6 separate regions of the Homo sapiens genome follow, and all the other regions are reported to be linked to region 6. The links are microRNA targets in miRTarBase. Many come from high-throughput screens and were not tested one by one. Region 6 holds a microRNA gene; each other region holds the end of a gene's coding sequence.

Region 1 (4,089 bases), not on the chromosome of region 6:
CAGAAACTAGACAGTAGTTGCGGGGAGGGAGGGTATCACACTTTTAGCACTTGTTTGACTGTCTCCTGGTTGCAGGAGGACCAGTATGATCATTTGGATGCTGCTGACATGACAAAGGTAGAAAAAAGCACAAATGAAGCAATGGAGTGGATGAATAACAAGCTAAATCTGCAGAACAAGCAGAGTTTGACCATGGATCCAGTTGTCAAGTCAAAAGAGATTGAAGCTAAAATTAAGGTAATTTAAGACTTTTTTTTAATAGTCTTTTCTTGACAGCCTTATTATTAATAGTCCTCAAGTGACACTTAGGAGGGAACTTTATTATAGTGTTTTAGCTTCTAGGTTGAGGATTGGGTGGTGGGAGAGGGCGGATTTGGGTTTAGCATGGCTTGTAAAATTTGTTAATTTTATAAGAAACCAGTTTTCTGTCTTACCCATTCCAGGAGCTGACAAGTACTTGTAGCCCTATAATTTCAAAGCCCAAACCCAAAGTGGAACCTCCAAAAGAGGAACAAAAAAATGCAGAGCAGAATGGACCAGTGGATGGACAAGGAGACAACCCAGGCCCCCAGGCTGCTGAGCAGGGTACAGACACAGCTGTGCCTTCGGATTCAGACAAGAAGCTTCCTGAAATGGACATTGATTGATTCCAACACTTGTTTCTATTAAAACAGACTATTATAAAGCTTTAAGTTGTCAACTTTGTTCTAAATATCAACTAGCGCAAGTGAATACTGAAGATTTCTTAGTCAGTTTTTAGGGGATTTTCGGGGAGGGGAAATAGGTAATGTATGGAGCATTTTCACTTCTAAATAGTTAGATACAGAAATTAAGTGCATTGTATCTTTTTCATAATGGTACTATTTAGAAGCCCAGTTAGTCTTACTGAGCTTATGCTTCACTCCTTTATGTTTAACCATGTGTCTACAAGAATAAGTTTGTTTTGGAAAGTTGAGCTATAGCTACAGCTCTAGCTATCCAGCAGACTTTTCATTATGACTTACATGGCAGGAGCTCTAATTATGCTTTAAAAATCTGTTGTGGAGATTGCTTTAAATGCTCCCTGCCTGGTGTGGGGATGGGGTCCCCCTCTTTGTGAGGGCTGGAGCATGGCACGGCATGGATTAACACGGCAGAGGAACAAAGGTGTGCTCTGAGCTTCTTCATATTTCACCTTCACCCTCACCTGTGTTCTCTTCCCTCTCTCCCAATAAAAGGGCTCCCATTATAAATGCCATGTACTTCTCTTGGGAAAATAGACCCCCTTGCCTAGAGTAAGTTGTTAACTGAGGGCTTTAAACCTGGAGGCTCTTCCTGAAAGTATGTTCATGAATACCCCAAGCATCAAGGTCTAAATAATTTTCAGAAGATTAGAATTGGGTAGATATACTGTTGGATATAGCCATGGTAAATTTAACTGAGGAATTAAATCCTTGTTAATTTTGGTGTAAAGATTTGTATCCTGGCCTGTTTATTCAGGTGGGAGATGTTCTGTATAATTTTGAGGTATAGCTTGAACTCCTAGAACAAGAGTTAAAAGTTCTTTTTAGCTCATTCACAATCACTTGTGTGTTAAGTGTTAATATCTGTCATGAACCTGCCAATTTGTACGTGTTAAGCAGCTGACAGATGATGCAAAAAAAACTAAGATACACTGGATTGTACTGGATGAGTCTGAAATTAGTGTTAAAGAAGTGTGGTGCCTGATGTTATAACAACACCTCATTCTTAACTGTGTGGCCAATGTCAGGTATACCAAAGCATTCCTCTGACTGCTTTTTGGGGCAGTGTTGACAGGAGTGAGGCATTTTGGAAACTCCAAGGGAAGCCTGTGTTTGAGGCCAGAGTTGGTACCTGCTTTAAGAAACTGTTACAGGGCTTGTTGGTAATGTTTTGAATCTTTGTAAAAATTGATATTCTGTATAACAGAGTGCCTCTCTGTTACTTTTGGCCTATGTTGTTAGAAATAAGATGCTATCTTGCATAGTTAGAATTAAGCGTTTGTCCATCTCTAGATAACATTGAAAAGTTTGAGTGTTACAGGCTCTAAAGTGCAATGGAGAACAATTGCTTAGGAGGAGGAAGGGGAAAGTATACTTATGTTGGTGTGTAAGCATGCATGGAGGCCTCGAGGCACCACAACAAGGCCAGGTTCTTAGCACATCCTCTGTTCTCTACCTGTCATGCTTCAAGAGTTCCAGCTGGCCTGCTGTGAAGCCAGTAGCTATTTTAAAAGTGCTGGCTGCAGGATTAAGCCAACCCTTTACAACTGGCCCAGACCGTAATGGCCATTTCTTCTTAAAAAAAAAAAAATTTTTTTTTTTTTTTTTTTTTTTTTTTTTTTTTTTTTTGGTGTGTGTGTGTGTGTGTGTGGGGAAGGGTGTGGGTGCTGGGATGGGGGTGAATTTCAAGTTGAAACACGATGATGTGGTCTGCTTGCTCTCTGCTTAGACAGGCTTTAAGACCAATTGGATTTTCATGGAGGCCAGGACAGAGAGTGGTAATTGATGGCTTGTGTACAGACAAGCATTTATCCAGGTTGCGTTATCCAAACTGATTTGTTAAAGCTCCAGGTCACGTTCTTACACTAAGAAAATCATTCAGTAAACATGAGACAAGTTTAGGAAAAACTAATAAAATAAACCTGTCTTAAACTTGAATGGTTTCCTTAATTCCATAATGAAGGCTGCTGGGTGTGTGTGTGGGGGTGTGTGTGTATGTGTGTGTGTCTGTGTGTATGTGTGTGTGGGGTGGGGGCGGGGGGTGTGTTTTCAATAAAAATGTTCTCTAGGAGTAGGAACCCTCTGAGCTAAATTTCACTTAACATCCGTTGAAGACTTCCAGTCTGAAGAGTGACAGCTGAAGCACACTGCCTACTTTGTGAGAAAATGTTGCCTAATTTTTCTGTACTCAAACTCTCCAGTTGAGTCTTGGCCCAGTTCCTTTGGTGTTAGGAATCCTTGTCTTGCTCCTGTGACTGGGCCTTACTTTGAGGGTTTTGTTAGCAGAAGGCGGGGGTTATGGCATAAAGGTAAGTGCTAGGACTTACACCTGGCCAAAGAACAGCGCGGTCCAGAGTGTGCTAGAATAGTTGGCGCCACTGGATGTGTGGTGTGGCTGCGTGGAATGTGTGTTGGTGTATGTATGTGGTGGTGATGGGTGTTTAAAGGGCACTAAGCCAGTGAAAAAGACCTTAACTGGATAAGGCATGGGTCTAGACGAGGAGGGGTCAGGGGTCTTGTTCCCTGGGTCATGCCCCTTGCACAGTCCTAGTCCTCTGGCTGTAGGAGCAGCTTACCTGCCAGGGCCTACCCAGGGCCTATTGTAGCCACGTGTCTGAGAAACGTGTGTCTAGTAGGTTTGGTTTCCTCCTGAGCATGTAAGTGGTTTCTGTAGGGGAATTGTTAGATGTGGTAGAAAGAGCTGAGATAGCTGGGTGTGGTGGTGTGCACCTGTGATTCCAGATACTTGGGGGGCTGAGGCAGGAGGATCACTTGAGCCCAGGTGGTCAAAGCTGCAGTGAACTGAGATTGTGCTATTGCAACTCCAGCCTGGGTGATAAAGTGATACCCTGTCTCCTTAAAAGGTGGGGGCCTGAGAGATCAGGGTTCTGTTGTGGGGCAGTGGGAGCTGCTTTGCAGGGGCACAGGGGGCCTGGGGGTTGTTGGAGGTAGTGGGACTTAGTCCACCTTTGAGGGGACAGCCAAATGAAGGGGAAAATTGCTGGTTTTGGTACCTGCAGGAAGAGGGAAGATGTAAGCATGGTTCCAGCTGAAAACCATGCTTTAGAAGTTGGGATAGTAGTTACTCTTTGTGGAGTAGTGACAACATGATGTGAGGCTTGGTGATGCTTGTTTTTTGATCTGACTTGATAGTGTACTCATGTACACTTGATCTATTTCAATAATTTTAAGTGGCTTTAACAGAAAGGTGTGTATTTTTTTTTTTTTTTTTTGAGATGGAGTCTCGCTTTGTCACCCAGGCTGCAGTGCAGTGGCGGGATCTTGGTTTACTGCAACCTCTGCCTCCCGGGTTCAAGTGATTCTTCTGCCTCAGCCTCCCGAGTAACGGACTGGAGGCGTGCGCCAC
Region 2 (4,108 bases), not on the chromosome of region 6:
GGATTTGCAGGTAGAACAAAACAGGTGTCTTCCTAAGAGATAATATTCTTGAGTTGTGTCCCAGGCAGTGGGGTGGACTGCAGTGTTGGGCTGTGACCAGGAGCAGGGCTCAGGCTGTGGCCCTCAGAAGGGAATTTTTCTTGAAAACAGCTTTGCTATGAGATCGGGCTGTTGACAGTTCTTGGTTGGCCCACAGCTACCCATGTCAGTTATCTCCGCTAACATTTCTAAGAATCTTTGTAGGACAATTTCTCACCTGCAAGCTCTTTCAAGTAGAACTCTTCTTTCCTTTAAGGCAATTAGCCCATTGCCTAAAGGTTTTACTGTCTTAAAGCTGGAACTGTCTTTCTGAGATCTAATTCCAAGGACTTCTCCACAGCTAAGTGAGATGCCTCACACCAGTATTAGGTGATTCTTTGTGTACAGAACAGAGCGTTTTCATCTTGTGTTTAAAGCAATTTCTTGGCTTCGGCTCCTCACCACTTTCTATACCAGTCTCCCATTCACATCCCTAGTAATGCCTATGCAAAAAAAAAAAAAAAAAAAAAGAGAAAAGAAAAAGAAAAAGCTGATGGTGAAACCTACAGGTTTAAGGGCTTAAATCTCAGACTTTGTGTTAGGAGTAACAGGAGTGTGCTGAGAGGGCAAGCAATAAAACAAGTCATACGAAAAAGCCACATTGCTCTCTCCTAAGCCCCAACCCCACTCCACTCCTGTGGCCAGTGGTCCAAACAGAAAATGACTGGAAGAAGACGAGGAGGTTAAAGGATCAGGGAACAAAGCATTATGTGAATTCACCAAGAAGATGTACAGAACGCTTGTGTTTACATTGTTTTTATGGAACTAGCAGAATAAAACTGATCTATTTTAAAAATAAAAAAATAAAAAAAAAAGAAAGAAAACAGCTTTGCTGGTCTGGGAAGGGAATCTGGGCTCAGGCCCCAAGAAGTGTCACAGCCACCACCTATGCCAGAGGACAGACCTGAGGCTGGGGTAGGACCCTGAGCATTGGAACTTGGGCCTGTTGCCAGCCTGGACTGGTCCAATTAGGAAGACCCACAGAGACAGCAAAAGAGGACAAGAAATTGGAAGCAGGAAGAAGGGAGGGGAGAGAGAGAATCTTTATCTGCTTCCCATTTCTGTTGCTTTCCTCTTCCATCTCTCTTCCCCGCCTCTTCCCATCTTAGGGGGATTCAGCTGAGACACACAGCAGCCCAACCCGTGTGTTTTAGGCTGGCCAGGAGCACAGTCTCCTTTCTTGATCCCCCTGTCTCTCCTGTTCCTCACCCAAGAAAGCCCCTTTCTAGGACTATGAAATCAGTGTGTTTTCAACCCTGATTCCCCAGGTGCACCCCCTTGGCACACCCTGACGGTTGTGCATGCATCATTCACTGAGTGCTCCCCACCCACCCACACAACGCACACACTTGGCTCCCAGGCCAAACGTGCCGGCTCGCTCTGGGCAATCGGCCTGGCCAGGTTCTCCCCCTTTCCTGCTTTACATCATTTGCCCGCTCTGTACTTTGTGTTATTTGTGACTTCTCTTGTGCAAGCCACAGCGGTCTTGTCCCTATGAATCCCATCCTCTTCCCACCGGCTTCTCAGGGAACTCAAAGGCTGATGTGGAGACACAGAAACTGGGCAGTGTGACACCATATACAGCCACACCCCACTACACAGACAGTCTCAAGTGAAAGAGGGTGCCGCACACCCTTGAGTGCAAATATACTTGCACGCACACTCAGACTCCCTGTGTTCAGGGTCTGCAGACACCCGCCTTCCTTTCCTGCAACCTCCCCCTACTCACTTGCAGCCTGCCCTCGTTTTTTGTCACCCCACCCTGGAGTTGGAGACACTAAGAGCAGGGCTGGGTGCAAACACCTGGCAAAAAAATCACAGGATGGTCACGCAAACAGGAAATCACTCAAAAGATTCCAACGGGAGGCTCTGGGGGGGCTCCTTCCTTCCGCGGTTTCCTCCTTCATCGCCCAGGCCTCCTCCCTCTGTCCCCTGACAAAAAGTCACCGAGCCCAGTTCAAATCGATTGTTTTATTGACTGCATACAGACGCGTTTAGAAAAGGGCACGGGCTCCGGGGGGCTACTCCGTCCCAGGCCCGCGCTTGTGCTGCGCTTCGCGGAGAGGGCTGATCCCGAGGACTGAAACTCCCCCCACCCCAACCCCGACGCTTTCTTTCAAAATGGAAAAAAGAACCCCGCCCCGAGTCGCCGCGCCGCGCCCCTCCCCTTCCCTCCCTCCCCGCCCATCCGCCCCCCCGCCCGCCCCCCTACACTACACGGTCACACTTCACAGGACACAGACTTTTCTCCTACAGGGCACGCTTGTCAGGGACTACACGCCGGGCAAACACGATTCCCGCCGAAGCAGGGGCGGGTGGGGCGGGGCGACGCGAGGACCGAGACGCGAGGACGGAGGGGCTCGGCTCCATCCGGATCCCGTCGCACAGTCGCACAGTCACGAGCAGGCTTTGTGCGAACTAGGGCGCGAGCCCTCCAGAGAGCCGCGGCCCGGGAGGCCACAGTCAGCTTCCTCCGCCTCCGGCGCTTTCCAGCTAGGGTCTGGGTCGGGTGGAGCCGCGGGAGCGGCGCTGTTGGGCGCACAGACCTCCGGAAAGCCCAACACACGGACAACGAAATTGGCCCGCGACCAAGTCCACAGGCTCAGCCGCCAAGGGGCGCGCGGTCCTGCGGCGCTTTAAGTTAGGAGAGAGACGACAGAAAACGCATTCCCTCCCTACCCCCCGACACACACACTCGATTTTCCCAGAGGCTGGGAAGGGGGTGTTAGCACCAGACCCGAAATGTCGCTGTCTTTGAAAACAACGAAAACAGGAAAATCTGAGCGCGGAGCTGAAAGGCGCCCCAGGCACCGGGCTGGACTCCAACTGGCCAGAAGTGGGGTGGGGGTGGGAGGACAGAAGGATTTGGTTCCCTGCCGGCAGGAGGCTTTGGAACTAAAAACTAGGGGTTGCCACGAATCCCGGCTTCTGGGAGTAGGGATTGAAAGGGAGGAGGGGCCGGGCGCGGTGCCTCACGCCTGTAATCCCAGCACTTTGAGAGGCCGAGGCAGATGGATCACCTGAGGTCAAGAGATCCAGACCATCCTGGCCAACATGGTGAAACCCCGTCTCTACTAAAAATAGAAGAAATTAGCTGGTCGTGGTGGCGCGCGCCTGTAGTCCCAGCTACTAGGCAGGCTGAGGCAGGAGAATCGCTTGAACCCGGGAGGCGGAAGATGCAGTGAGCCGAGATCGCGCCACTGCACTCCAGCCTGGCGACAGACCAAGACTCCGTCAAAAAATAAATAAATAAATAAATAAAATTAAAAAATAAAAAAAAAGGAAAGAAAGAAAGGGAGGAGGAGGGGTCGAGGTGGGACCCCACAGCACTCCACTGGCCTTGGCTGGCCCCCGAAACCACCGCGTTACCGCGAGGTTTCCAAAGTCTTCGCTCGTTTCCTCTGGCTCCAGAGCCCACGGTGGGGCGGGCTGCGGGGTGGATTTCGCAGATAATCGCGACGGGAATGGAGGGACATAGATATCGCCCACCGTCTGCGGGTGGAGTCTTGCATGGGGTAAGATAAACACTGTGCTTGGCGGGGAAGGGGATTCAGCCCGCAGGGAGAATGGCAGCCGTGGGTAGCAGGGACTGGTGAAATCGGCCCACTCCCTAATAGAAGTCCCTGGTAGTCAAGGTTGGGGAGTAGTAAGGGGGAGGAGTAGGTGAAGGTTGGGGACGGGGGACATAAGTCCTGCCAGCCCTAGACTGCTGCTCCCAGGCACCCTAGGTGGAGGTCGGGAATGGGCGGGCCGGACGGGCGGAGGTTCAGCCTGCCGTCTGCCTGTAGTTGCCATTAATCTCCTGGGCGATGTTGACCGCCTCGGCGCCCAGGGGCAGCCGATCGCTGTACTCAGAGCCCGCCTCGAACTCCTCTTGGTTGGCCTTGGACTGGGACTCCACCAGTGAGCAGGCCGCCAGGCTCTCCTCTCTCTGCAGGTCCCCACTTGGGTCTCCCTGCTCCGCGTCTTCATCAAGGCCCTCCCCCTGCACGTCCTCTGGCTCCTCGCCGCCCGCCTCGCCGCCTGCCGG
Region 3 (4,108 bases), not on the chromosome of region 6:
TTAGTACAGGTCTAGTAACTTTGTCCCTACATTTCATAATTTTGATGCCGTTTTCATACTTTCAACTTTTTAAAAATATTGAGCTTGTATCCTGTGACCTTGCTAAACATACTTACTAGTTTTAAAAACATTTTCAGACACTTTATGCTTTTCCATATAGACAATCATGTCACAGCAGTCTCATGCCTTCTTTCACATTCTGTATCCCTTTTCTTTGAGACAGGGTCTCACTCTGTCGCCCAGGCTGGAGTGCAGTGGTGCGATCACAGCTCCCTGCAGCCTTGATCTCCTGGGCCTCCAGTGATCCTCCTGTTCAGCCTCCTGAGTAGGTGGCACTACAGGCACATGCCACTATGCCTGGCTAATTTTTATTTAAGTTTTGGTAGAAATGAGGTCTCACTATATTGTCCAGGTTAGTCTTGAACTCCTAAGCTCAAGCAATCTTCCCACCTTGGCCTCCCAAAAATGCCAGGATTTTAGGCATGAGCTACCACACCCAGCCTCTTTTTTATTGGCTTATTGTACTGGCTAGGACATCCACTACAAGGTTGACTGGAAGTGGTGACTAGACATCTTTCTCTTGTTTCCAATCTTAGGAGAAAAGTGCTTTTTACTTCACCAGTAAGTACGATGTCAGATGTAGGTTCTCCCATAGATGCTCTTTCTTAGATTCTTGAAACTCAATTTAATTCCTAATCAACTGAGCGGTTTTATCATGAATGGGTGTTAAATTTTTTCAAATGTTTTCCTACATTAAAAAAATTGTGGTTTTTCTTTTTAATATTAATATGAAACATTGCTTTTTGAATGTTAAAGCTTGCATTTCTAGGATAAACCCTACTTGGCCATATGTGTTTCCTTTTATAGATTGCTGTGTTCAACTTGGTATTTTAAAAAGGATTTTTACATCTATATTAAGAGATATTGATCTATGAGTTTTTCCTATGATGTCCTTTTTGGCTTTGGTATCTGGGCAATGTTGGTCTCATGACTTTTCTTTGGGGGAAGGTTATCAGCTAAAAATTCAATTTAATAGGACTATTCAAGTTCTCTCAAGTGGGCTTTGGTTCTATAGTCCTTAGGATAAAATTTTCCAATTCATTTAAGTTGCTGAATTTATTGGAATTAAGTTACTAATAAAATTCCTGTATTACCTTCTTGGTGTATAGGACCTATAGTGATATTTACTCTTTCATTCCTGATACAGGAATCCTTTCAACCCTTTCAAAGAGTTAGGTTTTGGTTCCATTAAATTTTCTCTATTGTTTGTCCACTTGTGATTTTTGTGACTTTTAGCTCTGTATCATCTCCTGTTCTACTTGCTTTGGATGATTTCTGTTCTTTTTCTCATTTCGTAAGGTGGAAGTTTAGACTATCGAATTGAAATCTTTATCTCTGATTTCACCTCTAAGCACTGCTTTAGCTACATTTCACAAATTCTGACATATTCATTCAGTTCAAAATATTTTCAAATTTTTCTTACTTTCTCTTTATTGCTCATTTAGGAGTATGTTGTTTAATTTCCAAATACTAAGAGATTGTTCAGACATCTTTGTTATTGGTCTCTTACTTAATTCTGTCCTGGTGAGAGAATATACCTTGTATGGTTTTCATTCTTTAAAAAATTTTAAGACTGTTTTATTACAGTCCATAGTAGGCACACTTGAAAAGAATGTATACAGGTTGGGCACAGTGGCTCACATATGTAATCCCAGTGCTTTGGGAGGTCCTGGAGGGAGGATTGCTTGAGCCTGTGAGTTCGAGACCAGCCTAGGCAACAGAGCTAGACTCCATCCCTACAAAAATAAAAAATAGCTGGGTGTGGTGGCACATGCCTATAGTCCTAGCTACTCTGGAGGCTGAGACAGGAGGATTGATTGAACCCAGGAATTCAAGGTTGCAATTAACTCATTGCACCACTGCACTTCAGCCTGGGTGAAAGAGTGACACACTGTCCCTAAAAAATAAAAATATATTAATATATCATGCTAATGAGTGTTCTACAAATGCCAATTAGTCAAGTTAGTTGATAGTGCTGTTCAAGGCTTATACCTCCTAAGTGACTTGTGCTATCAATTACTTATTTAACTATCTAATTATAATTGAAATTGTGCCTCTTTCAATTTTGCCAGTTTTTATTTCATGAATTTTGAAGCTCTGTTTATGTGTACTTAAGCTAGAAAGTAGCTTTGCTGTAGGATTCCCGAATTCCCATAATACAGAGGTCTTTCCCTTGGGGCCATTCAACTTCTGCAGAGAAGAAACTTCCCATTTCTTGCTGGACGTTAAACCTCTGGTCAGCCACGTACAGGAGTTGGGGAGCAGTGTGTGTTTATGTAATGAGGAGGTATGTTCCATATACAAATGGCCATTAGTTTCATTGCTTTCTCTTCACATCTCACTCCCATCTTCCAAGGTACTAAGCATTTCTGAGCCTGGTGCCAAATTGGTTCCTTCTTTTCCTTATCCCCATATGCAAGCAGCATAACTGTGCCTGCTTCTGCTCTACTGGCTATCTTTCCATCTTTCAAATTTTCATTTGCTGATAGTCTTTCTCCTATTCTCCTTATTGCTGTAGTTTGATAAATTAAATTTTCCTCGCATCTTAATGTTGTCCAATGTGATGAGACATGTTTAACAAAAGTGCATTCTCGAATACTTTCTGTGCTAGCCATTTTTAGCTTATCAAGCCCCAACATGATTTCTGCAGCCTCTAAGCTGCCCCCTGCTCCTTATGTATTCATTTTTCCAGCTCTGCCTCTGGAACCTATTTGTTATTATCACCTGCTCTCAGGTACCCCTCCTGAGTAGCTGGGTCTGCAGGTCTGTGCCAGCACACCAGCTAATTTTTGCACTTTTTTATAGAGACAAGATTTTGCCATGTTGCCCAGGCTGGTCACGAACTCCTAGGCTCAAGTGATGCACCCTCTTCAGCCTCCCAAAGTGCCAGGCATGTTACTTTGGACCCTTCCTCACATTCACTCTGGAAGTATCCCAATAAACTAGCTGTACTCACCAAAAAGGACTACTTATGTTCCTGAATAGTTGCCTGGGAGGGGCTGTTCAACTTCCTATCAAAATGGTATATGGGAATGTACTACATGAGTAACTCTCTTCCAGCTTTTTGTTGTGTGGCTACAAACTATTATATCTTTTTGCAATAAACACAATAATTTCCATGTCCATTGTATTTCCAACTGCCCTCTTGGCCTAAAATGGACGCAGTGTACAATCATAGTTTAGAGGGGGCTAATCAGGACTGGAAAGAAGTATGAAAAACACAAGGCACAAAATTTGAAGAGAAACCAGAGTTTCAATTTCTCAGAGAATGTGAACAAAGGGAAACATGCCCTGCTTGAGAATAAATATAAAGTTCTTGCCGTTAAAATGCTGGGTAGAACATGTAGTTGAATTGTAAAGTACAGACACTTTTACTCTACCCATCTGAGAAACAAGAACAATCCATTCATTGTACAGCATAACAAAGTGCTTGATACTTAAATATTTTGAATGAGTGATTTTTCAGTGAGGGAACATATCTAAATAACCCTTACATCTCTCTCCTTTGTAGAATATAAAGTAAGAGTGATACTAAATATTTAACAGTTTTTACAGTATGAGCGCTGTGAAGACCTGAATGGGCTAATGTCAGTTAGCGAGGATCTTTCTTGTGAACCCGCTGGTGGATGTGAAGGTTGGAGCTCTGGCTGAAGCCCTTCCCACACTTGCTGCACTCATAGGGCTTCTCTCCAGTATGTACTCTCTGGTGGATGAGGAGTTTGGAACTCTGGCTAAATCCCTTCCCACACTTGCCACAGTGATAGGGCTTCTCTCCAGTGTGGACTCTGAGATGGATGCGAAGATCCGAGCTCTGGCTGAAACCCTTCCCACACTCATAGCATTGGTAAGGCTTCTCTCCTGTGTGGATGCACCGGTGAATGTGAAGGTTCGAGCTCTGACTGAAGCCCTTCCCACACTCACCACACTTGTAGGGCCTCTCTCCTGTGTGTACTCGCTGGTGGATGTGCAGGTTTGAGCGCTGACTGAAGCTCATACCACACTCCTCACACTCATAGGGCTTCTCTCCAGTGTGGACTCGCTGGTGGAT
Region 4 (4,000 bases), not on the chromosome of region 6:
CACCTAAGCATTTCCCTGAGAACATAAAGAAGGTTATTAACATAATGAACTATTTCAGCCTTGAAAACAGTATTCATTGAGGAGATACCTCAGAGGTAAGGACTTCCTTAGGACAGTAAGAAAAATCTATGAGTTCTTAAGTGGAAGAAAAGAAACAACTATGAAAAGCAGGACCAGCTCAGAACTCCTCCTGAGGAAGAGATGAGGTATGACAGGATTTTCCCTGTCCCAAAATATTGCTATCCTTCTATAAGCTGCTGGAATCTTTCTTCATTCCGTTCTCCCATTCTCTGTGAATGAGAATCAGTGGGTTATGAGGCATTCTCTAAAAACGCAGGTGCAGCAGTCATGGGAATGGCAGTCGGCCCAATGCAGGTGTCAAAAGGAATTTCAGATGTGGAGAAGATAATCACAAGGCATTCTTTCTGTGATGAAGTGTGATCTGCTTTCTTCTCAGCACCACATGACATCAGCTGTACTTAGAGAACTGACTAATGGGAGGAGAAGGGTGGGTGACTCTGGAATATGAAGAACCTCAGGAGGGAGGATGGAGCCCAGTGGGAAGGTTCTCAGTTGGGAGAGGTGAACAAAACTCCCAGGAGTGTACCTGGATCTCAAGGGCATTAGGAGGTGAAAATGAGTGGAAAAATTAAAAGGAGAAAGACCTTGTTCTTAGGAAAAGGGGTGGAAAGTTGCACTGTCCTTCCTCCAAACTACTCACACTACCCTGTCTCAGAGACCCAAAACTCAGGCAGGCACCTTCAGTATCACAGGTTAGGTATATTAGAGTTGAACCTGTTGAGGGAGGCTTGGCCTGGGAACTCAATCACCAATTCATAGTATTGTTTCTGTGGAAAAGTGTCTCAAAGTCTGCTTGTAACCCACTTGTTTGAAACATGATAAAGAATCCCTTCATAAGATTATTTACTTGTGGCCAATTTTGGAAGTGCAATCTCAGTTTTCGACTATAGTCACTATGCTCTGAATCTCCAAATATATTGTACAATATATAAAAAAAGAGCCTTTTATAAGGAAAAAAATGTCCAACATTTGTGTCACCATGATCAAACTTTTGTATTATATATTCAGATATAGCAATATTTCCTATTAATATTTACTGTTTAAATGATATTTAGGCACTGCAGAATAGCTCTCTTTTCAGACATAGAGCAAATCTAATAATCTATCACTTCAAATACTCTATATGCAAGTACTTTATATCAATCTAAAGATACAATCAAGAGGTAATGCTTTAAGGCTACATATGAAGGCTACCTTGGTTATTGAAAATGTGTATAAGCAACAAAAACACTTTTGCAAAATGTAGTAGAAATGAATCATTATTGCCATCTTAGAAAGAAAAGCTATTGCACACCAACTAGACATTCAAGATGGTATCCTAAAACTTATTGCTACTGTTCTGTTAGGACAGATTATTGCTCAAAACTGCCCATTTTAAAACATCAAGAAATTCTCTCATTTTTGTTATCTTTTCAGGCAAGGCAACATCACAAAAAAATTTTAAAGTTAAACTTTTAAAGTTAAAAGTGAAATTTATTACAATACAATAAATGCAAGTGTCATTATTAAAAATGCCGGTTAAAATTATAAAGTATCTAAATAATTTTTCTAATATAAATATTGGAAATGACAACTTTAACAATTCTATATGTACACAGGACACTGAAAACATAAAATCATGAACAAGGCCAAAAAATAACGTTGCACATTAACCCTTTAGTTATTACTTTCTATTTTCCAGTCCCAGCATCATACCTGCTAATTACTCAGATCACAAGCCTCAAGGATTAAGTGTTTTGAATGTATTTCAGTTTCATACTTTAACAATGCTTAAAGACTATTGGTTGTATTCTGATCAAATGGTTCTCCTTCCCATATTTCCCTTTCTCAATAGATCTTAGACAAAAAGGTGAGCAGGGAAAACTGTGATTACAGGATCCAACATGACAGGTATACCCAATGATTCATTTAAGGGTGGCATAAAGTTATATAGAAAAGACCTACAGGACGGAAGACAAGTACATCAACACGTAGTGAAATTAAGCAGTTCACCCACTGCGTGCTTACATGGCTCCTATATCTCTTCGGGAAGAAGCCAGAGCCGTAGAGAAGTCAGGGCAAACCAGAACTGTTGAGGAGTAGGGGTGGGGGGCAGAGGGAAGGAGCTGGGGAGAAGTGCCAGATCATAAAGGAAATGTAAAAGAGTTACCTATCTGTTCTCCCCCTCCTGCTAACGCAGGGGCTGGCTCGAGCCCAGCCTCCCTGCCCGCATCTCAGTGGAGCTCTTCCCCCAGCATTGTCTTTCAGATGAAAAGATACATCTGTTCCCCACTGAGATGTTTTTTTGGGGGAGAGAGTATGTTTTGTTTTTTATTTTGATTATATATTGACAAATTATTGTATATTTTTATAGGGTACAATACGGTTTTATGATTTTTGAATATAAGGTGGAATGATTACACTAATTAACATATGATCTCAAATATTTAACTTTTTTATGAGAACATTAGAAATTTACTCTCTTAGCAATATTGAAATATACATTCAATTATTCCTATATTTAGCATGCTGTGCAAGTGATCTTTAAAAAAAAATCACACTTATTCCTCCTAACTGAGGCTTTGTACCCTTTGACTGTCTCCCAATTCTGAGAACACTTTTCATAAATTTGAGGAACTGCCTAAATATTATAGGCTTGAACATCTGAACTTGTCCTCAGCATGAAAGCAGGTGAGACTTTTTTTTTTTTTTTAAACAAATGAGCAGGTAACACCCAGAGAGGTTAAGTGGTTTAGCCACTGGAAAGATAAGGAAGTTGGGTGTGATGTTTACTTCTCTATGATGATGCTTCTCAAACTTTCATGTGCATACAACTCCTTTGGATCTCATCAAAATGTCCTGGGTCCAGAGTGGGGCTTCAGATTCTGCATTTCTAATAAGGCTCTAGGAAATGTTGAGGCTCTTGGTCTGTGGGCCACACTTTTAATAGCATGGACTACAACACAAAGAGGGATCCACCCCGGCCTTCCTGGGTCATGAGAGGCCTGCTTCAGCGTTATCTGCCTCTCCAAGCACATCCCCAAGCAAAAGGTTTCGATGCACTGCATAAGGTGGCAGCTGCCTACAAGACTGCGTTAATATATTTTCTGAGAGCACCGTGACTACATGAACAGCCAAACAAGTAACATAATTTGAGTAACATAATCTAAATTTGACAGGTCTATTTGCTGAGAATAAAACTCATCTCCTACTTATGAAGTCTTTCTTAAAGTGAACATGATATATAAAGGTATTAAAAAACCCAGCATATTAAATTTCATAGTAAAATGCCGCATGTGCACATGTATACAGATAGTATGAGTTCTAAGAAATTCAATGCACTGTAATCAGAATAAAGTGCTACCACTGCTCCCAGCTAAAATCATCTCCTCTTCCAAATATAAGGAAAAACCCTTGAATTGTAAGGAAAATGACTGCATTGCCTGCCAACACAAGGCCGCAGGCTCCCCATTTGATCTGAAAGACAAGAAAAGAAGGATTAAATCCTTACTTCCTTCATATTGTACTCTTTGCAATCCCTATTATTTTCTGCATTAGAAACATCCAATGAAATGTTACACAAAGCTGCTAAAAGGCTTAATAATGTAACAGGAGACAATGAACTGTTCAGTAATGAGTCTAATTACTTCTGTGATGCTTGTTAATTAAGTCTGGTATCATCCTTAACATGTTCCCAATTAGACATATTTCTCTACTTGTTTTTAATTGACAATGATTGCCTTAAGTAAAACTCAAGTGGTAAGATTATAAATAGTGCAATTACAATATTGGGTACTGAAAGTTCTGCACACATCAACTTCTTTCATGGAAAATAAAAATTGTAGAGTTATAAATTTGTGTGTTTCTTTTCTAGGCAAGAAAAGACTTTAAATAATAGTCTTCATACAACTGAAAACTGCTTTCCAGCTTAGTAGATGGT
Region 5 (4,108 bases), not on the chromosome of region 6:
GGGAAGCTATTAGTATCACTCTAAAAATAGTCATTTCACCCATAGAAATGGATAAGATCATTAAGGGGATCATGTAGAAGATAACAACAGATAGACAATAGCATTTAGGAGCTGGAAGAATTCTAATACTAAAAAATAGTCAAAATGGAAAATAAGAACAGAGAATCAATTCTAGAAACCAAGGAGAAACTTTAAAGCATGCTGGAGAGTGGTAAAGTGAAAGATCACGTCCATTTACAAATATTCAAACAAAACTGTATTTGGCTTTTTCTATATGATAGAAGAACCACAAAATTAATAAAATAAACTACCAACCAACCTCAGTAACATCAAAATTACATGAGAGCTGGCAAGAATTTTAGTTGCCAAATAGCATTTATTTGAGTACAAAATCCTGGCAGGCAAAAGCACTTGCAGACCCGACTCTCTGAGAACTTACAAACAAAAAGTGAAAAGCTCTTAGTTCATTTTGAGTCAGAACAATAAGGAAATTATGAAATCTAAGATGTGCAGGTTTACTTAAAAGTGATAATGGTTTATATTAACTGTGGCCCACACAGGGTCTCTCTAATCTAATGAAAACAGGACAGTCACTGAAAATAAGGACTAATCAATGGCCAAATGTTTCTTCACTATGGGCAAAAATGTGATTTCTTCATCTGGGCTTTAAGAGCTATAAATAAAACACATGGCCGGGTGCATGCCTATAGTCCTAGCTATTTGGGAAGCTAAGGCAGTAGGATTCCTTGACCCCAGGAGTTGGAGGTCAGCCAACTCTAAACAAACACAAACATCATTCTGACAAATGACCTTAATGTAGGATCTCTTTGGACACATCTTCAGCAAGCAGTCATTTAATAAATGCCTTCTGATAGGCAGAATGTAGCTGCTCATGGCTCTTTAAGTATCATATCCAGAATATGAAGGGTTTGGAGAGAAGTTGCATAATGGACTTGCCCCTTTCCTCAATGGGCAGGTAATGTATACAAAAGAACCCATACCCAAATTATAGCATTTTTATTTTCCAATACTATACAAAAAATAGACTGTGCATATCTTAACAGATCCAGATCCAAATTAAATACTTTTTTTCTATTTCAAACTATTCTAAGTTGCTAAGGTGATAATCCAGTTTTGAGCTCTACTCTCTTCCACTGACTACTTGGCTCTCATAAGCATAAGAATTCTTGCCCTATTTCCCACAAACTCCATAAATTGACATTTCTTTTTGTAAGAAGGGGATATTTTCTTCTACACTTGAGTCCTTACATCTGTGAGATTTCATAAGTATCTGAGATTTCACACTCTTGCTATTTTCTTAGTGTCAAACACAAGAGGAACCAGGAACTGTTTCTGGCATTTCTACTAATTACTATGTTTCTCATTCTTTAAATATCTGTGAATTCATAATATTGAATCTGCCACAAAAACCATTTTGAATATTTCTAAATTCATGTTTTTTTCTAAATCCATCCTCACTCTTTTTAATACTTCTTTCAAGGGGCAGAGTACTTTACAGTAGATTACTTTGTTTCTTAGATTAAGTATAGGTAGATGTCTAGAAAAGTGATTCTCCATTATTTTCTTTCACAGCCACCCCCAATACCCACCTTCATCCACTCACCCCACTTGCCACCCCCATTTCTATCACTTTTCCCTTTTTGGGCAGAAAAGAGACTTGAGGGTATTTCACTCATCTAAAGAAATTGCCACTTTACTCCATTTTGCCTTGTTGAAAAGTTAGTAGCAGGGCAGGATGCTCAAGAAACAATGTGATCAAAAGAATATGTTTGAATTTTAAGAAGTAGACTAGTTCATAGAAAAAATAATTTAACACTTGAGTAAGCACAATATTTCTATAGAAAGACAGACTTCTACAGATCCACTCCTCTGAGAAAATGCTTCAACAGCCTGTGCCTTAAAGCCCTTATTTAGAATATGTTAATATGATACCATTAAGCAATAATTTAAGGATGGTTAAAAAAAAATTTTTTTTTTTTAAGCATAGACTCCAGTTGATTCGGTACAACAAGCTGTTTCCAGACCACTGGTCTCATAATAAATATTGAGACCTATACTACTGATAGATGGAATTTATTAAGCTTTTCACATGTGATAGCACATAGTTTTAATTGCATCCAAAGTACTAACAAAAACTCTAGCAATCAAGAATGGCAGCATGTTATTTTATAACAATCAACACCTGTGGCTTTTAAAATTTGGTTTTCATAAGATAATTTATACTGAAGTAAATCTAGCCATGCTTTTAAAAAATGCTTTAGGTCACTCCAAGCTTGGCAGTTAACATTTGGCATAAACAATAATAAAACAATCACAATTTAATAAATAACAAATACAACATTGTAGGCCATAATCATATACAGTATAAGGAAAAGGTGGTAGTGTTGAGTAAGCAGTTATTAGAATAGAATACCTTGGCCTCTATGCAAATATGTCTAGACACTTTGATTCACTCAGCCCTGACATTCAGTTTTCAAAGTAGGAGACAGGTTCTACAGTATCATTTTACAGTTTCCAACACATTGAAAACAAGTAGAAAATGATGAGTTGATTTTTATTAATGCATTACATCCTCAAGAGTTATCACCAACCCCTCAGTATAAAAAATTTTCAAGTTATATTAGTCATATAACTTGGTGTGCTTATTTTAAATAGTGCTAAATGGATTAAGTGAAGACAACAATGGTTCCCCTAATGTGATTGATATTGTCATTTTTACCAGCTTCTAGATCTAAACTTTCAGGCTTTTGAACTGAACATTGATGACAGTGTTCATAGTTCAACCTACTGAACATACAGTGTGCTTGATTCAGAATGTTATTTTGTAGAAATTAAAATTTTAACCTGGTGAAAAATAAGTTGATATAAGTGGTATAATAAACAATACACTGAAATGGTTACTGTCACAAACGGTGCTAAATAATGATATAGGAGGTTCCACTCTCAAGTCACCTAGAAGTTTGATTACATATTGTTACTTACAAAACTATAATAAATTGGATGCACAGCTGTTTACTTCAGTCTGGTGTCTTCAACCAAAATATGTACCTTATACCAAAACAATGCTTATTCCAAAATATTTTTTGTAGCTAGTAGTTCTTTCCTTGGAGGTAAAGAAAATACACCCAAACTTTTAATTACCAGGATTCAGAATATTTAAGAGAACAATTTTAGTTAAGAATCAAATATACAGAGATTCAAAGAGGGGAAAAAAAGGAAATATTATAGAAGACAAAGGTCAAACTGGCATTCCAGATCTGGAGCAATTTTGTAAAGCAGGAAAACAACTATGACAATCTGTAGCTTCTTAGATCATTATAGTGAATGTCCCCATTTACTATAAGTGTTTTTATAATGGTGTTTCCTAAATAAAGGAACATAAATGTACACTAAAGGGTGTTTCCCAAGAATAGAGGTGAAGATATTTTCATTTTGTTTAACCCACAAACTATTTGGTCAAAGGAATATGTAAAGCTAAATAAAAGCACATCTGGTAGAAATTCATGGCAATGCATGTTGACAAGATGTGCTTGGACCTCGCTTGCAGCATCTGGCAGTGGGTAGCAGAACAAAGGTAGGAATCTCACAGGCTCTCCTGTGTCTTTTCTGGAAGAGGCTCCGTGGTGGTGGCACTAGCATTTGCAGCCGAATTCAAGACTTCTCCAAAATCACCACCAGCAGGCTTGGTTCCCCCTACTTTAGACTTAAAAAAAAGTTCAAAAAAGGGAAAGACATTATGAAACATAAAACTAGCTGATTCTGCATAAAGTAACTCTAATTCACTTTCAAGAACAAATACATCAGCAACCTTATAGCTCAGTGATTATTATATATGTATGGAATTTAGTATTGTTGCAATGTTCAGTGTGGTTTTATAGTAAAACTCATGCATTCTCCCTTGCTGAAATATTCAGATTGGTAAATTCTACCCCTTCCCCTTTCCCCCTGCTCCTTGTTCTTCACAGGAAGTCTGTCTAGAAAACTTTGTAAGGTCTATTATTTTAAAGTACCTAGTGAACTGTCTGTCTCTACACTTGCATAACATTTTGTATTGCATCGAATTGCTCATTTAGCTACACTCATTCAA
Region 6 (4,108 bases):
CATATAGGGACTGCTATAAGTAAACAATCTGTCCAGTCGTATCTAGGAGAAAAATGACGGAATAGAATAATATAAAAGTAGAGGAGGGAAGATGAAGGGAATTCTGATACAAGTTGGGAATGTTACAAGAGTGAAAATACCATCCCAACACAATTGGAAAACTCTACCTAGGGGAGGAGGCACCACTAACTAATGACTGAGACAAACCATTAGGTTCAACCATATGAAATTGCCATTATTGTAGGTCAGAAACAACTGAATTTCAGCAAGTTTACATGGTCTAACCTTACATGTTATACCTGTATTGTGCTTACATTTTGCTATGTATATATGTGTATACATTTATAAATACCCAACACAAAGTTCATGCATATCTTCTTCCAAGATTCAAAAAATCTTAAGATGAAGGAAAGCTGACAATAATATTTATTATAACACATCTCCTTTGTCTAAAGGGTTATCAGTTCAATTACTTTCAAATTTGGTTGTAAACATATATTGTGTTTGGGCATAAATGCTTCTTAATTATTAAGTAATACCTGAATTTGCCACTTTTAAAATAAATATACTTTAAAAAATGAATACACTGAAATTGAGGAGCAACCAAACAGTTCTTACAGAAGCCAAACTGTACTTAGGAAACCCAAGTTGGCTATTTTCAGCTTATTCCTCAACTCCTTAGTTTCAGGTATAAAGTCATCACATACCAATTGGATGACTAGTCCAAAGGGAAGCTTAGTAAGAGATCACATTGTTTATTCTCATCCCTGAAGTCAGCCACACTTGAGAGATGAATAAACAACAGGTGCTGCCCAAGATTACAATGTAGGTTGACTTTGATGCTTCAATTATTTTTGGCCGAGATATTATATTTGTACATCTCTATGTTTGTAAATATTGCATATATGTATATATGGATAATTGTGGAAGTAAGAGCTATACACATCATTAGTTAATCTGATAAATAAACTTTAGTTAGTTTTAGGAGAATATCTCTGGATTATAAGAATAAGCCACTTCATAAAACATTTGTAAAACTTTGTAAAAACAAGTACATAAACAATATAGAAATGTATAACTTAGAAAGTCAAAGTCCCTAATAATCATTGTCTACACCTTTGCCTTCCTCTTTCAAATAATCAATATCATCAATTTGGGAGATATAATCTGAATTTCCCCCTCCTCATCACATGTTCTGTTTTTTTTTTCACTTATTTCTTTAAAAGTCTATCCTCCTTTGAGATTCTTTTCTTCACCCGTCTAGATCATAATGATATTTCTCTTCTCTACACTTTCAGTACTTTGAGTTTGCATGTTAATAATAAAATGTCTCACACGGTTCTCTAATTCAGTATTCCCCAGACTGTTTTCCATAGAACACCACTATCCCAAGAGATTTTTATAGATCTGTCTCAAGAAAAAGTTGCTCTGTCAAAAACACTTAGGGAGTTCTGGGTTCAATGACAATAACTGTATTTCTTTGTTGCAGAACTTCTGAGACACTGTGAGTGTGTGTGTGTTTGTATGTTTGTGTGTGTGTATGTAAGTTTCTATTCACATTTTATATAAATGAAAACATATCTTTGTCACATATATCAGATGTCCAATTTTGAGACTTGGTTGTGTTGGGGTCGCTAAGGAGAAGTGGCCCTGCGAATGAGGAAGAGACAGTGAGGGTCAAGAAGGAAGGTCAGAGTAAGCAGGGAAGAATCCAAAGAACATGGTATCCTAAAATCCAAAAGAGTTTTCAGAAGGAGAAAATGGGTCAGGTGCAGTGGCTTATGCCTGTAACCTCCACACGTTGGGAGGCCAAGGTATAGGGATCTCTTGAGGCCAGAAGTTTGAGACCTGCCTAGACAACATAGTGAGAACCTACTGAGACATCTTTAACTTCTTAGGTGTGAATGGTGAAGTTCCAGGGGAAGATTTTAGTATGCCACATTTCTAAAATTTGCATCCAGGAACATCATCCTATTCACCTTCTGACTGATATCTTAAGTGACCTTAATGGTTTTTAGAACCTTGTATGGAAAACTCTACATTCTTGAGAGCAGGGACTTTGTTCTTCATTCCTTTTTGAGACCCTTGTAGTGCATAGCATAGATCTGAAAACATCAAAGCACCCAACAAATATCCGTTGATTGCATCATATGGTTGAAGGAAATAAAAAGAAAAAAATGAAAAATATATTGAAAGATAACTAATATATGCCCAAACTTTTCACCATACATTTTCCTCACTGATTTATTTATCTTGAATTAAATAAAGGGATATTTTTTTGTCTTTAAGATGTACATCTTAAAATTACATAATACCATTATATTTCACTATACTGATCAAAAGTTATTGCATAGGAAGGGTGTACAGACTGATTATGAAATCCCAGTGAGAATATGAAAAATTTGCTGACTAAAATTTTTATAGTGCAAGAAATGTGTTTCTATCCTAAAGAGGGTTATAAAATGGGAGAAATAAAACCCTAAGAGTCATATCATTAAATTTATGGAAGTTCATTTCCTGTGTGTGAGGAGAGTCTAATGGAAAACTTTATAACCATGGACCTTCTCCTTTGTCACAGCTGAAGGGATCCAATGCTAAAATTCTGTTCCATGTAACAAAAAGTACAGTAGAAGAAAATATTGTATCTTGAGTATATTCCTGTCCTTCTATATCTTCCTCTGACTTCTGTAAGATATATTTTAAAAACTCAGTCCACATTCCTTAATTCCTCCAACTCCCTCCAGAAACAACAGGTCTTCAAGGTGTAATTGGGTAACTTTTATTGAAATCAGCTGTTGGTAGTCCCTGGCAACCATATGTGCCAGTTATTGAGTCACAGAGGAAGTGCTGGGTTCCTGAACACAGTCTGTATGGAGTAAATTCTCGAAGCATTTGGCCCTATCTCACAATGCCTCTCACTTTGCCCTGCTCATGATCCAGTCATGGATTTTAAATTGAACCCATGTTTCTGTTTCCATACTGAAAGTTAAGTTTTAGCATAAATATTTGAGGGTCACCACAAATTTAAGAGGATACCTTTCAAAATATGCTTTTCTTTTTTTTCTCTCTCTCTTTTTCTTTCTTTCTTTCTTTGATGGAGTTTCACTCTTGTCACCGAGGCTGAAGTGCAGTGTGGTGATCTTGCCTCACTGCAACCTCTGCCTCCCGGGTTCAAGAGATTCTCCTTCCTCAGCCTCCTGAGTAGCTGGGATTACAGGCGCCTGCCACCATGCCCAACTATTTTTTTTTTTTTTGTTATTTTTAATAGAGACAGGGTTTCACCATGTTGGCCAGGCTAGTTTCGAACTCCTAACTTCAGGTGATCCGCCCGCCTTGGCCTCCCAAAGTTCTGGGATTACAGGCATGAGCCACCACACCTAGCCTGCTTTTCTTTTTATAATACAAAAACAAAATAACATTTTTGATTCGAACCTTATTGGGAATATTTGACTGCTAGTCATAAACTGCCTAAACTAATAAATAACAAAGTAATATATTTATGAGACAGCAACAAGAAATTCTTCTTGGGCTCAGGATGATATCTCAAAGTAATAAAAATATATGCTATCTTCTGTATTTGGCTTCAGGACCTGATGGTGGTGGATGGTGGGAAGTGCTCTAACTCGACTGGAGGCAGCACCTCCCCTTCTGCTCCAGCACACGGCCTTGGGCAGGCACTTTAACCTCCCTGGGACTGGCATCTCTCTTCTGTAAAACCAAGAGGTTGATCTGCATAAACACAAATAGCACTTCCACATATGTCCAAATCCATGACAATATTATTCCAGGTAAAAATGTGCAGCAGATCCTCTTACACATAGACAAAGTGGGCCATTCTGTTTTACAAATAGCACTTTTCAAGCAATGTGACTTTTTTGTGCTTAACCCAGTAATGAGCATTTCCTAAAAATTTAAATGCTAATAAGATAAACCTTAATAGCAACTTGATTGTGGAAGTTTGGATTTAAAAATAAAATAGATAATAACTCTGGAGATGACAGGACCACTTTTCTCCTCTAAATTGTTTGATGCTGTGGGTCAGTGGATAGGAAAACAATAAGAACATCTGCTCAGATGACACACTTCACATTCCCGATGAGGCCATAAT

Evidence for each region. The annotated mature microRNA hsa-miR-4282 reads UAAAAUUUGCAUCCAGGA and lies in region 6 at 1,946-1,963, shown strand. An mRNA with a match to its seed (bases 2 to 7 or 8) in the 3' UTR can be bound and repressed. Matches are read on the target gene's strand: a 7mer-m8 pairs with bases 2 to 8, a 7mer-A1 pairs with bases 2 to 7 and ends in A, and an 8mer does both.
Region 1: the mRNA of HSPA4 is a reported target of hsa-miR-4282. Seed matches in the 3' UTR shown: 7mer-m8 at 2,311-2,317.
Region 2: the mRNA of ISLR2 is a reported target of hsa-miR-4282. Seed matches in the 3' UTR shown: 7mer-A1 at 3,337-3,343.
Region 3: miRTarBase lists ZNF239 as a target of hsa-miR-4282. The part of its 3' UTR that is shown has no 7-base or 8-base seed match.
Region 4: the mRNA of LEPROT is a reported target of hsa-miR-4282. Seed matches in the 3' UTR shown: 7mer-A1 at 1,601-1,607 and 7mer-m8 at 1,516-1,522.
Region 5: the mRNA of TPD52 is a reported target of hsa-miR-4282. Seed matches in the 3' UTR shown: 8mer at 2,854-2,861, 7mer-m8 at 2,625-2,631, 8mer at 2,214-2,221 and 7mer-m8 at 1,985-1,991.

What each region holds. Positions count from the first base shown.
Region 1 is chr5:133,103,790-133,107,878 of GRCh38, forward strand. HSPA4 (heat shock protein family A (Hsp70) member 4) reads left to right here. Exons shown (of 19, transcript NM_002154.4): 18 at 76-237; 19 at 444-2,660. The coding sequence ends at 647. Among named protein-coding and RNA genes, the nearest start is that of HSPA4, 54 kb to the left of the region's middle.
Region 2 is chr15:74,134,729-74,138,836 of GRCh38, reverse strand. ISLR2 (immunoglobulin superfamily containing leucine rich repeat 2) reads right to left here. Exons shown (of 3, transcript NM_020851.3): 3 at 2,035-4,108. The coding sequence ends at 3,845. Among named protein-coding and RNA genes, the nearest start is that of ISLR2, 6.2 kb to the right of the region's middle. RefSeq lists an enhancer at 2,316-3,007.
Region 3 is chr10:43,553,051-43,557,158 of GRCh38, forward strand. It overlaps ZNF239 (zinc finger protein 239), which reads right to left. Exons shown (of 4, transcript NM_001099282.2): 4 at 3,294-4,108. The coding sequence ends at 3,653. Among named protein-coding and RNA genes, the nearest start is that of ZNF239, 20 kb to the right of the region's middle.
Region 4 is chr1:65,431,340-65,435,339 of GRCh38, reverse strand. LEPROT (leptin receptor overlapping transcript) reads right to left here. Exons shown (of 4, transcript NM_017526.5): 4 at 1-3,537. The coding sequence ends at 3,421. All of the region lies in intron 2 of LEPR (leptin receptor), which reads right to left. Among named protein-coding and RNA genes, the nearest start is that of LEPROT, 13 kb to the right of the region's middle.
Region 5 is chr8:80,034,512-80,038,619 of GRCh38, forward strand. TPD52 (tumor protein D52) reads right to left here. Exons shown (of 8, transcript NM_001025253.3): 8 at 234-3,724. The coding sequence ends at 3,605. The region is part of intron 5 of TPD52-MRPS28 (TPD52-MRPS28 readthrough); the gene reads right to left. Among named protein-coding and RNA genes, the nearest start is that of MRPS28, 6.3 kb to the left of the region's middle. RefSeq lists an enhancer at 2,486-2,535.
Region 6 is chr6:72,965,552-72,969,659 of GRCh38, reverse strand. It overlaps MIR4282 (microRNA 4282), which reads left to right and starts at 1,907; the gene lies at 1,907-1,973. The region is part of intron 1 of KCNQ5 (potassium voltage-gated channel subfamily Q member 5); the gene reads right to left. All of the region lies in intron 3 of LOC105377855 (a long non-coding RNA gene), which reads left to right.